Linked DNA regions of Homo sapiens. The protein of the gene in region 1 interacts with the protein of each later gene in a pairwise test. Each region holds a gene or a part of one and is shown on either strand. Other genes may lie near its edges.

Region 1 (3,421 bases):
AAACTGTGAATTCACTAGCTTTGCCATTAGAAATCCTTTCCATTCAGAACCAATCTTGTTTTACCAAAGCCTCCTTTCCGACTTTGCCAGAAAGTTCTGATCAAGCCTGAAGCCCTCCTGCAGAACCATCCTAGGAGAGCTGTAGTGCAGAAGAAAGCCATGCCCCTCAATCACCATTAAATGTGGCCAGCATCAGCATTCACCCAGGAGCTTTTAAAAATGCAGGTCCCTAGGGACTCTAGGCCCTAGAGCTAACGGGTAAAATCTCCAGTGATAAAACCCAATGATCTATATTTTTAAAAGCTTTTCAAGTGAATCTCATGCAGCACACGGAAGCTTCCGTCTAGATCTATGGTTCTCAAACTTCAGTGCATAAGAATTATCTAAGGTTCTTGTTAAAAACACAGATTCCCAGGCCACACTTTGGTGGATTCTGATTCTGTATGTCTTAGGGAGGGCCTCAGAGTCTCCAGTTTTAACAAGCTCCCAGGTGATTCCGACGCAGGTGATCCAAAAACCACAATTCAAAAACCCTAAGGCAGATGCCAGAGTGAATTTTTCTAACCCAGTCCTCAGCAGGGAGGTCAAGGAAGAGGCAAGAGAACTAATTAGGTTATGCCAGCATGCTCAAATTTATTAAGAGGCTCACAAAGAAGATGGACCTTTTTTGCATCTCAAAGCTGCAGAAAGCCAGGGCGGAGGATCAGTCCCAAAGACACCTTGAAGAAGAGGATGTCTTATAGTACAAGACATTGAACTTCATGTGAATAAGTAAAGTATTGGGGATTCACCCTTGAGCTTGGGATCACTTAGTTGTGACCGAGTTTTAATGTTTCATCAGAGTATGGCTCTTGTTCTCGGTGCCTTGAAATACCAGAGAAGGTGTTGGAGAACAAGCCCTCCTCTACAAATCACAGAAAGACAAGACACTGTCTTGGGGGTATGGAAGGTTCTGGACACGAGGGGCTGTCCCCCTGGAGCAGATGGAGGCTTTCGGTGGGACTGCATCAGTGGTGGAGGGAAAGGTCTTCATTTTGTGTCGCATATAGGTGTGGGCTGGCAGCACACAGGCCCACAGCACCCGGAGCCGCAGCAACTGGACCCACAGCAACTGGATCCACAGCAGCCACCCCCGCAGCCTCCGCAGCCTCCACAGCCTCCGCAGCCAGATCCACAGCAAGACGATCCGCAGCAGCTGCCCCCGCAGCCAGAGCCCCCGCAGCCAGAGCCCCCACAGCCACAGCAGGAGCCGCAGCAGCCACAGCAGCCCGGCTGACAGCAGCACTCTTCACAGCAGTTTTGCTCCTGGGTGCAGCAGGTGAAGCAGTCCCCCGGGCAGCACCCCATGGTCCGGGCCCGTCAGCTCGCAGGTCGGTAACGCAGCCGGAGTTCCCCACGACTGACGGTGGCCAGCCATCTGGATGGCAGCTTTTATATCCCCTCACCCAGGCATGAGGGACGGGATGTTTTCTTTGTTATTATTTATGCAAGTTTCCATAAGACCGGCTCATTAACTGGCTGTTTATTTTCCAGTCCTGAGTACCTCAACTCATAAAAACGCCCCACTCCTGCCAACTGCTGTTTATCCAGAGGGTAAAAATACATCTTCGAAAAGACCTGTCATCATGGCCAAGCATCTGCCAGCTGTCATTAGCCCAGGTTGGAGATGGGAAGGGGAAGCCGGCCACAGCTTCTGGCTCTGGAATGAGGGGCTTGCCTTCCACATCTTCGCAGGTTGGCGATGGACCCCATCTTCCATGGATGCTAGTCCTGGAAAGGCAGACCGGCAACAGCCGAATGCTCTGTTCCCCCTGACACCAGTGGAGGCTACTGAGAACGCCTGGTCACGTGGCTCCTCCCAGGTGGAAATGGCATCCTCATCCCGGTTCATGTGAGCCAGGCAAATGTTTGTGTCTGTGTGTGGTATGGGGAGTGTGCCACACGTTTAGGCTTGGCCGGTGAGCATCAGTCATGAGTAATAACTGCCCTGTGAAACCGAGAGAGACTCATCGTAAAGCTGCAAGAAGCTGGTAAGGCATGGTCTGTCTCGGCGGCAAGGTGAGCTGAATATTCGCACTTCTCTCTAAATAGGTGGGAAGAACTGAGATCAGAACCCTCTACCCACCCCCACTCCAGCCCCAGGCCTTTCCTTGACCGGGGAAGGAAGAGATGCAGGAGGAGGAAGAAGAGGAGAAGGGGAGGAAGAAAGGAAAGAAGAAAAGAAAGAAGAAAGCAGGAAGGAGATCAGTAAATATCCAAAATGCTACATTAAAATGGGAATGTAACGCACTTTTTTTAAGAGTTCGAACCTTATAGACCATCTGGCAGAAGGAGAAATTAGAATACAAAATACCCAGAGTGTCATCCCAAGGAATAAAATGCCTTTGCAAGGAGTCTAAAATCTACAGATGGTTCAGGTCCATGTGTAAATTTTGAGATGGGTCAAAATTTCTGTCTCTTTCTTGGACTTTGGTACCTTGTTCTCCTCTTGGAGTGCCCATGGCAGCCCTGGAGCTGGAATACAACATCTAGTAGGGGTAGAGGACAGAAGATAGGGGTGGGGTGGGAATGGAAGGAGGGATGGGAGTAAGGATCTGGATCAAGGGATCTAGTCCTTCCCTTTTCATTTCCCTTTCTTTGTAAGATGGGCTAGAAGTAAGACAGCCTCTAAGAAGGGCTAGAAGAACTAAGGACAGGGTGGGAGTCGGGAGGGTAAATGATGAATGAGTTACTTGGATCTGATATGATACTCAATACTTCACAGGATATGGAATTTTAGAGCTGGGAGGAACCCCTGAAACATCATCTGGTCCAGGGTTTTATATCAGAATTGCCTAAAAGGGGGCCTTTTGAAAAATACAGATTCCCAAACTGTATTCCAGTCCTTATGATAAATCAGAATGTGTGCTTATGAGAGCTTGAGAAGCTATATATTTTAAACTTTCTCAGGTAACTTGGGTTACATTAGGAAACACTGATATAATCTAATCCTATCATGACCATCACTGCCAAGCACTTGTGTTTTACAGAAGATGATACCAAGGCCCAGAGATGACACATCCGTGGTAGATTGGACCCATGGCCCAGATGTTCTCCCTCCTGGTCCACTGTTTCTTCCACCATACCACATCCACAGATGGGCACCTCTGAGTGAGTATAATACAGCAATGTCTATGGCAGACGTGTCCTTTTTTGTTTGTTTGTTTGTTTTTTTGAGATGGAGTCTCACTCTGCTGCCCAGGCTGGAGCGCAGTAGCTTGATCTTGGCTCATGGCAACTTCCGCCTCCTGGGCTCAAACGATGCTCCTGACTTAGCCTCCCAAGTACCTGGGATTACAGGCACGCACCAACAAGCCCAGCTAATTGCTGTATTTTTAGTAGAGACAGGGTTTCGCCATGTCGCACAGGCTGGTCTGGATCT
Region 2 (3,749 bases), on another chromosome or scaffold:
CGCAGTCCAGGATCTTCGCCAAGGCACCTGCTGGAGGCCCCTCCTGGGTCCCACGACCCCGACTGCGCCTGCCGGCTGCCAGCGAGGAGGCGGGGCCAAGGCGAGGGCGGGGCCGAGGCAGGAGGGGCGGGGTCGGCCTGATGGGCGGGGCTTCCGTGTGGGCGGGGCTGCTGGCCCTGCGGTCTGAGCCAGCGGGGAGAGGCCCGGGCGGAGGAGGCTGCGGACTCCTAGAGGTTCAGTGCCGGAAGTTGGGCCTGGAAAGGGGGCACCGCCTTCCCGGTTCTGGTGGCGGGGAGTGAGGGGACGGGCGAAAGCGGCACAGGGAACAGCATGACACGGGCCTGAGGCAGGGCACATTTGGAAAGGGGCGAGGAGAGGGCAGTGGCTTCTGGCACGGCAGCAGTGGGCATACAGAGGCAGTCGGGACCCGTCTGGAAGAGCCTCCGCCCGGGGTAAGGAGCCGGGACTGTGTCTAGGAGGCAGTGGGGAGCTCCGGAGAGCGAAGCGCCTCCTGCGCAGACTCGCGTGCTTGGAGTACCGGAGCCTGCAGGGCAAGAGAGGGTCTTCAGAAGACCCACGACGTTCCACTGGGATGCAGAGGGAAACGGTTACTTGTACTTCTACATCATCTCTTTTAGATGTGTGTGTGTGTGGTGTGTGTTGTTGTTGTTGTTTTTGTTTTGCGACAGAATCTCTGTCACCCAGGCTGGAGTGCAGTGCCAATCTCGGCTCACTGCAGCCTCCGCCTCCCGAGCTCAAGTGGTCCCCCCGCCTCAGCCTCCCGAGTAGCTGGTACCACAGGCGCCGGCCACCACGCCCGGCTAATTTTTAAAAAAAATTTTTAGTCGACACGGTTCTAACTATGTTGCTCAGGCTGGTCTGAAACTCCTGGACTCAAACAATCCTCCTGCCTTGGCCTCCCAAAGTGCTGGGATTACATTCATGAGCCTCTCGCCCACCCAGTCTAAGTGTTTTAATTTTTATCTTTTACAACAGCTTCTAATTTGTTACAAATAAACGTGCAGCATGTGGTGGGAGTGTTCAGGTGTTTACTGGTGCAGTGCGCAATGAACGCGGTTCCAGGCACGAGATGTGGAGGCCCAGAGGCAGATGCCGGGTGGCGGCGGCGCGGGACTGTCGGAGGCGCGGGCAGGGACCTGGGCTCCCAAGGCTGTGGCCCTCCCGCCCCAGTCCAGGGTCCAGTTCCAGGGGCGCGTCTGGCCCTCTGTTGCTGTCTTCTTAGGGTTCTCTCATGGGAATCGGTTCTTCAGCCTTTCTTTTCTCCCCAGAGAGGGTCTGTCTACTCGTTGTAAGAGGGAACAAGTCCACATTGCAGCTGTACACTTTGCACCCATGATGAAAAGCGTCACTTTTGCAGCATTCCAGCTGGAGATGCGTGACCTTCGGTCTGCGGCAGGCGGAAGGGCGAGAGACTTGGACAGGAGGTGCATCTTGCCCGGGGAAGGCTGAACGAATGAGAGCTCGGTCCCTGGTGAGAAAGAGCCCAGAGCCCGCGAGAGGCGGGCAGCAAGGGCTTCTCTGCAGCGGAGACGCGAGGGCGGCGTCCTGCAGGGAGGCGGGGGGCAGCGCCTGGGGCGCTCCAAGCTCTCGGCCCCAAGGAAGCCCACGCTCGGGACCCGCGTGCTGCCACAGCCCCGGGGGCCTGGAGGGTCCCGTGAGCCGAGCGGGACCCGGGACAAGCGCGGGACGCCGCGGGGAACGGACGGGAACGCGCGTGGCCGCCCCACAGCGGGCCTTCGACACCTCCTGACACGTCCTGCGGGTGCCCGGTCCTCAGTTGGCTCGAGCCGGATCCCGGCGCGCCAACGGCTCGACCTTGCCCCCCACGAGGCAGGGCTTCCTGCCCGGCAGGAAGGACTCGGCCGGCGCCTGCGGGCAACCGATGAGCTGAAGGCGCCGCGGCTGGGCCGTCCCGCTCTCCCGCCGCCGAGCGCGCTGTCCTCCCGCTGCCCAGAGCGTCGCCGGAAGTGCCGAGGGGGCGGGCCAGGGGTGGAGACTGGCGTTTCCGGCGCGCGACGGGGCGGGGACCGTAGCGGGTGCAGTCCAGCTGCTCTGGACGCTGAGGCCCCGGCTTCTCTTGCTGGGGTGTCGATTCGGGAGGGCTGAGGGCGCGGCCGAGAGAACGGGGCGGTCACCGCCGCCGTGGCCCGCGCGTCCCGCGCTCTCCTTGCAGTGCAGGCCCCAGCCGCTCTCGGGCGCGGCGTGGGGGAGGCGGCCCTGCAGGTGCGTACCCGGGGTCCGACACGTGCGGGGCTTCCTGCGAGCTGAGTCCCCGCTGCGCGTCTTCAGGCCTTTGTAAGTTGTCAAATTTCCCACCGGCCCAGCTCATCGAGCTTCTTCCCAGCTGTGAACAGGAGGGCCTGTTCCCTAATTCTTGCCGGTAAGGTACTTGCAAAAATCTGCTTCCAGACTAAAAAATTGCACTTTAAATTACCTTTTTGTAAAAGCGGCGGGGTCTCGCTATGTTTCCCAGGCTGGCCTCCTACTCCTGGGCTCAAGCGATCCTCCCGCTCAGCCTCCCTGGCAGGCGGGATTACAGGCGGCTTAAATTAAATTTACTAATTAATCACTTTATTTACTTATTTTTTTAAGACAGGGTCTCACTCCAACGCCCAGCTGGAGTGCAGTGGCGAAATCTCGGTTCACCCCAGCCTAGACCTCCTGGGCTCAGGCAGTCCTCCCACCTCAGCCTCCCTAGTAGCTGGGACTACAGACGCCCACCATCACACCTGGCTAATTTTTTGATTTTTTGTAGAGACGGGGTCTCACTATGTTGCCCAGGCTGGTCAGGAACTCTTGTAATCAGTCAGTCCTCCATCCTGAGCCTTTTGAAGTGCTAGGATTACAACTGTGAGCCACAGCACCCAGCCAAATTACATTTCTTAATTGCACTTGAGGTGAGACCTAAAAAAATGTATTGCCTACTGGTTTTTCTTCTTTGTGAGTTACCTATTCATGATCTTTGCCAATTTTCCTTCCTTTCTCATTAATATATAGAGGTCTTTATCAGATAGGGATGAATCTTTGCATTGCACGTATTCCTCCCTTTTTGGTTTTTTTTTTTTACATTAAATTTTTTTATGTAGTTGAATTTGTCAGACATCTGATGTCAGGCTTAGAAAAATCATTCCTCATTCCAAAACTTTACCATTCAAATAAGTTGTTCTTTTCTTCTGGTTTAACATTTTTATATTCAAATCCTTATAACTACCAAGAAAATTTTAAAACCCATGGGAATTTCTCTAGACATTTGAAGACTGCTGGAGGGCGCGGGCTTCCTCAGCATGGAGCTAGGAAGCTGTGGCCACGCCCACCTGTGCTCTGCGTCAGCCCTGGGTGGAGGGGGACCCGCAGAGCCTGGACCAGAGTTCCTGGGCATCCCACAGAACAGAACACCCGCTTCTGGGAGTGTCTGTTGAGCCAGGACCTTGATTGCTAGTGACAGGAGTGGGCCCAGCTGGGTGATGCAGCTCCCACAGGGCCTGTTCTGACAGTTTCCTCTGAAGGCATTCTGACCTCACTGCCCCTGGCCCCTGTACCTAGCCCTGGCTGTGATTTATTTTCCTTTTCTTTTACCTAAGCAGAAATTGTTCCAACTGCTGGTGTTCTGCAAGATGGAGCCAGGAGGAGAGCCCACAGGTGCTAAAGAGAGCAGTACCCTGATGGAGTCCCTTGCAGGTGAGGGGACATGTCCACAGTCGGGCCCAGAGTTCCAGGGCAGGAATTGA
Region 3 (3,749 bases), on another chromosome or scaffold:
TTCAATTACCTACAACAGAATTGTCAGGGGGCAGGGGGGTGGTTGTCTTGTTTTTGAGGCAGTATCTCACTCTGCTGCCCAGGCTGGAGTGAGGAGGCTCAAACATGCTTCACAGCAGCCTCGACCTCCTGGGCTCAAGCAATCCTCACGCCTCAGCCTCCCAAATTGTTGGGACCACAGGCATGTGCCATTACGCTCGGCTAATTTTTAAAAATTTTTTGTAGAGATGGGTCTTGCCATATTGCCCAGGCTGTTGGTTTTTTAAACCATTTTTTTCCCCACATTTTTTGGACCTCATAAAATCATGAAACTGCTAACTGAGGTCTCAAACTGGCAGGATTAAGATGGGGCAAACCAAACAAACTACACACATGTATCGCCTCTGCTGGGTAATATCATCAAAGGTCAGTGGAAAACTTGAAATATTACTAGAAACAGCTTTTCAAACTATAGGCTGTAGCCCATTAGTGATTATAAAAGATAACATGGAAAATAGAGTGTATCCCATGTAATAAGGTAAACATTGTATCATGAGACTTGTGTTACAATGTGTGTGTTTGTGTTTGCTGCAAATAAGAGACCTAAATGTTTACAGGAGAAAAATCTCTGTCTCTCTCTCTCCTCCCCCCAACCCCCTGCTCTCTCTCTCCCTCTATATGTATATACACACATAAACAACTTTTAGGAAGGAACTACAAGAAAGACACAGCAAGAGAGAGTAAATAATACAAAATTACCTCTACAAGATGTCTCAGAACTTTCCATAGAATCTAACTTTAAAGCATCGAACACCTCAAAATCAGATTTCTTGACATGGATCAAATTGTTAATTGTGCCAAGCTGACTGGTAACCACAGGCTGAAACAGTGAATAGAAAAAATTATTGAATCTCTCTTTCAAATCCATCTCTTCCATCCAACCTTCCTCTTTTACTAAAATTTACACGATTGTTCTCAGCACCTCCACGTTTTATCAAGAGAGAAATCCTCCAGTGTAGGGGAGCAGCTGCCCATCAGTCTTGACAGAAATGACAGCTAAAATGAGACTGCTAAGTCAATGGTTACCCTTGGAGATCAAGGCCTTACCTCTGATGGATCATGAACCCACTGTCCATCCACAAAGAACTTGTATTGGTGCTCTCCCTCAGGGAGGTCCAGGATGGCAACAAAGTCATTATGGCTACAGAAGAAAAAAGAAAGGCAAACAGGCCAAGTTCCTTTTAGAAGACTGAATCTAAAAAACAAGTGGCAATCATAGTATCATATGAATAATTTCCCAGATTCCTAAGCCATTGTATCCCCTGGTGTAAAAAACAACGTATAAACCCATTCTCCTTTTCTGTATCATCTTGGACATGTATTTACCAGCTCCTCCCAACAACGTTAGTTCTTAACCAATATCTGGAAAAGAATAATAAAAACATTAATCCCCTCAAATGGTTCACCTTAGTATAACTTACTTTGCTTCAGTAGAACAAGTTCCTCACCAGTGCAAATAAGATAGGTAGGTTTAGGATACAGAAGTGCCTCAAGGTACTCTTTCCCTGTTTTGGTGAACCTTTTCTAGAGAATGAACTACCATACAAAGGGCCATTCTGACAACCAGTTAAATCACTCATTATTGCTTTGGAAGCAACAAATAACATGACTACCTAAAAATTCAAAATGTGTTTTGCTTTAGTGCAGAAGTCAGAGCAACAAGACTCAGACAGTTACAAAAGACTTCCCACAAGCATAGACAGGACTTGTATGACATAGTCCTAAAGAATGTAGCCATAAAGCTATTATGAATCCCTCTGAGGCAATGAAATTCTAAAGGGTAAAACATCTCTGACTCACTATGAGGTTAAAAAAAAATCCCACAGATATACTAAGTGGCCGCAGAAAAGGGCATGTTCTAGAGACAGTCCTTAGTAGGTGGAGAAAAGTCCAGCTGGGTCTCTCTTCTGAGAAAAGAAATCAGGTCTCTATTCCTGGACCCTTAGATTCAACCAAGACACTTGTCACCTCTTAATCAGTGGAATCTTGGTGCTCCAATTGTTGAAGGACCCAGAGATGAAGACCTCCTTGCCTCCTTCAGACCAGCGGATAACAGTGGGCCGGGCCTGCTGTGTGGGCTTTACGGAGTCCTCCAAATCCTGCTGCCATGATACAAACTCTTTGTCCCCAGGGAGCTGTAAGAAGGAGTAGGTCATCCCTAGAATAAACTGTGACCCAAGAATTCTAAAAAGGTCACTCTCCTCCCTAGGATAGAGAAGGGTGCTAGGCTTTGGCTAAGGATATAAACCCCAAAATTAGCAACTAAATCAGAGTTTGAACAAATTATAGAAAAAGAACTCATCTAGGACCAAAAATGGTCAAATGGCCTATGCTCAAGCACTGCCTAAATCATAGCCTAACTTTTGAGTCTACCTGTGTCACTTACCCTTCCAGAGCCTTAGACTCTCCCTTAAAAAAAAAAGAAAAAAATAACTCCCTACCACTAGTTTAACTCATAGGCAGGCAATTATGATATGCTTCTGAGTCTTTCTTCAGAGGAAAAAAAAATGAAAACAAAGTATGGTTCTGTAAAAGATAATTAAGTCAGCCATATATTTTTATAGGCAAATATGAATAGCTCTCAATTACCAGTTGTAATGGAAGTCAGAGATATCAAAATTCATAAGTAATTCATAAACTGTATTTCAGCTAAGAAGTAAAAAGAAGAAACATTAAAAATTCAAAAACTAGATCACTGATTTCTTAAAACTTGAGAAGTGGCTATGAAATCTTACTTATTCCCCTATCCCAGGCTTATACTAATTATTTCAGGAGTAGGAATAAAAATTCTAGAACCTCAAGAAGCAAGAGATCAAAAATACAATTTCCTTTATCAAAAGTAGCTCTCTTATCAAATGAGGTTTATGGGATTGTAAAAACAGTAACTCCTGTTTCTTTTCATTACTATCCTTTGGACCAAGAGTTGGCAGACAGCCAGTAAGCCAGATGCTTTTATCAAGTGTTATTTGAAAACAGCTCTGCCCATTTGTTTACCTATTATTTTACTGATTGATTGATTGAGAAAGGACCTTGCTCTGTCACCCAGGCTGGAATGCAGTGAGTGGTGTAATCATAGCTCACTGCAGCCTCGAACTCCTGGGCTCAAGCCATCTTCCCACCTCAGCTTCCAGAGAAGCTGAGACTAGAGGTGTGAACCAACATACCTGCCTTGCTTACCTATATTGTCTATAGCTGCTTACAGGCTACAGTGGCAGAATTGCGTAGCTATAACAGAGACTGTATGGTCTACAAAGTCTAAACTATTTACTATCTGGCCCTTTACAGAAAGATTGCTGACCCCTATTTTAGACTGGTTTAAGTGACTTTGGTAAATAAGACTGTATAGTATTAAGCCTAAATATTACTAAATTGAATAATGTGGGTTTTTTTTTAAAAAAAGGACTAGCTTATTCATTTGGGCTTTCTTTTCAAAATGGTTGACATAGCTTCCCTCCATACATTCTCTTGATATTCCTCAAAACTACAGTATAGCATATCAGTAGCAGGATAATCCAAAGTAAATAGAGAAAGAGAATTGAAAGGACTTTCACATAAGGAATTGACTTAAGAGAAAACTACATATTCTCAGAACAATGCACTCTTGACTAACTGGCTGCGTTAGAATTACAAGAATTTGACATATGCCTAAGAATAACCCTCAGATTCGGATGTAAGATCTGGGAACCTATTTTTAAAAAGCTTTCTAGATAA

Evidence for each region.
Region 2: the proteins of KRTAP17-1 (region 1) and ZNF696 interact in binary tests that used the Homo sapiens proteins (3 or more experiments, as listed by UniProt).
Region 3: the proteins of KRTAP17-1 (region 1) and PRKAB2 interact in binary tests that used the Homo sapiens proteins (3 or more experiments, as listed by UniProt).

Annotation. Positions count from the first base shown.
Region 1 is NC_000017.11:41,314,304-41,317,724, forward strand, and holds KRTAP17-1 (keratin-associated protein 17-1), read right to left. Parts: upstream 1,408-3,421; 5' UTR 1,348-1,407; coding exon 1,030-1,347; 3' UTR 609-1,029; downstream 1-608. UniProt on the Homo sapiens protein: In the hair cortex, hair keratin intermediate filaments are embedded in an interfilamentous matrix, consisting of hair keratin-associated proteins (KRTAP), which are essential for the formation of a rigid and resistant hair shaft through their extensive disulfide bond cross-linking with abundant cysteine residues of hair keratins.
Region 2 is NC_000008.11:143,289,367-143,293,115, forward strand, and holds the start of ZNF696 (zinc finger protein 696), read left to right. Parts: upstream 1-2,050; 5' UTR 2,051-2,401; intron 2,402-3,605; 5' UTR 3,606-3,635; coding exon 3,636-3,699; intron 3,700-3,749.
Region 3 is NC_000001.11:147,165,761-147,169,509, forward strand, and holds part of PRKAB2 (5'-AMP-activated protein kinase subunit beta-2), read right to left. Parts: intron 2,174-3,749; coding exon 2,007-2,173; intron 1,180-2,006; coding exon 1,086-1,179; intron 859-1,085; coding exon 738-858; intron 1-737. UniProt on the Homo sapiens protein: Non-catalytic subunit of AMP-activated protein kinase (AMPK), an energy sensor protein kinase that plays a key role in regulating cellular energy metabolism.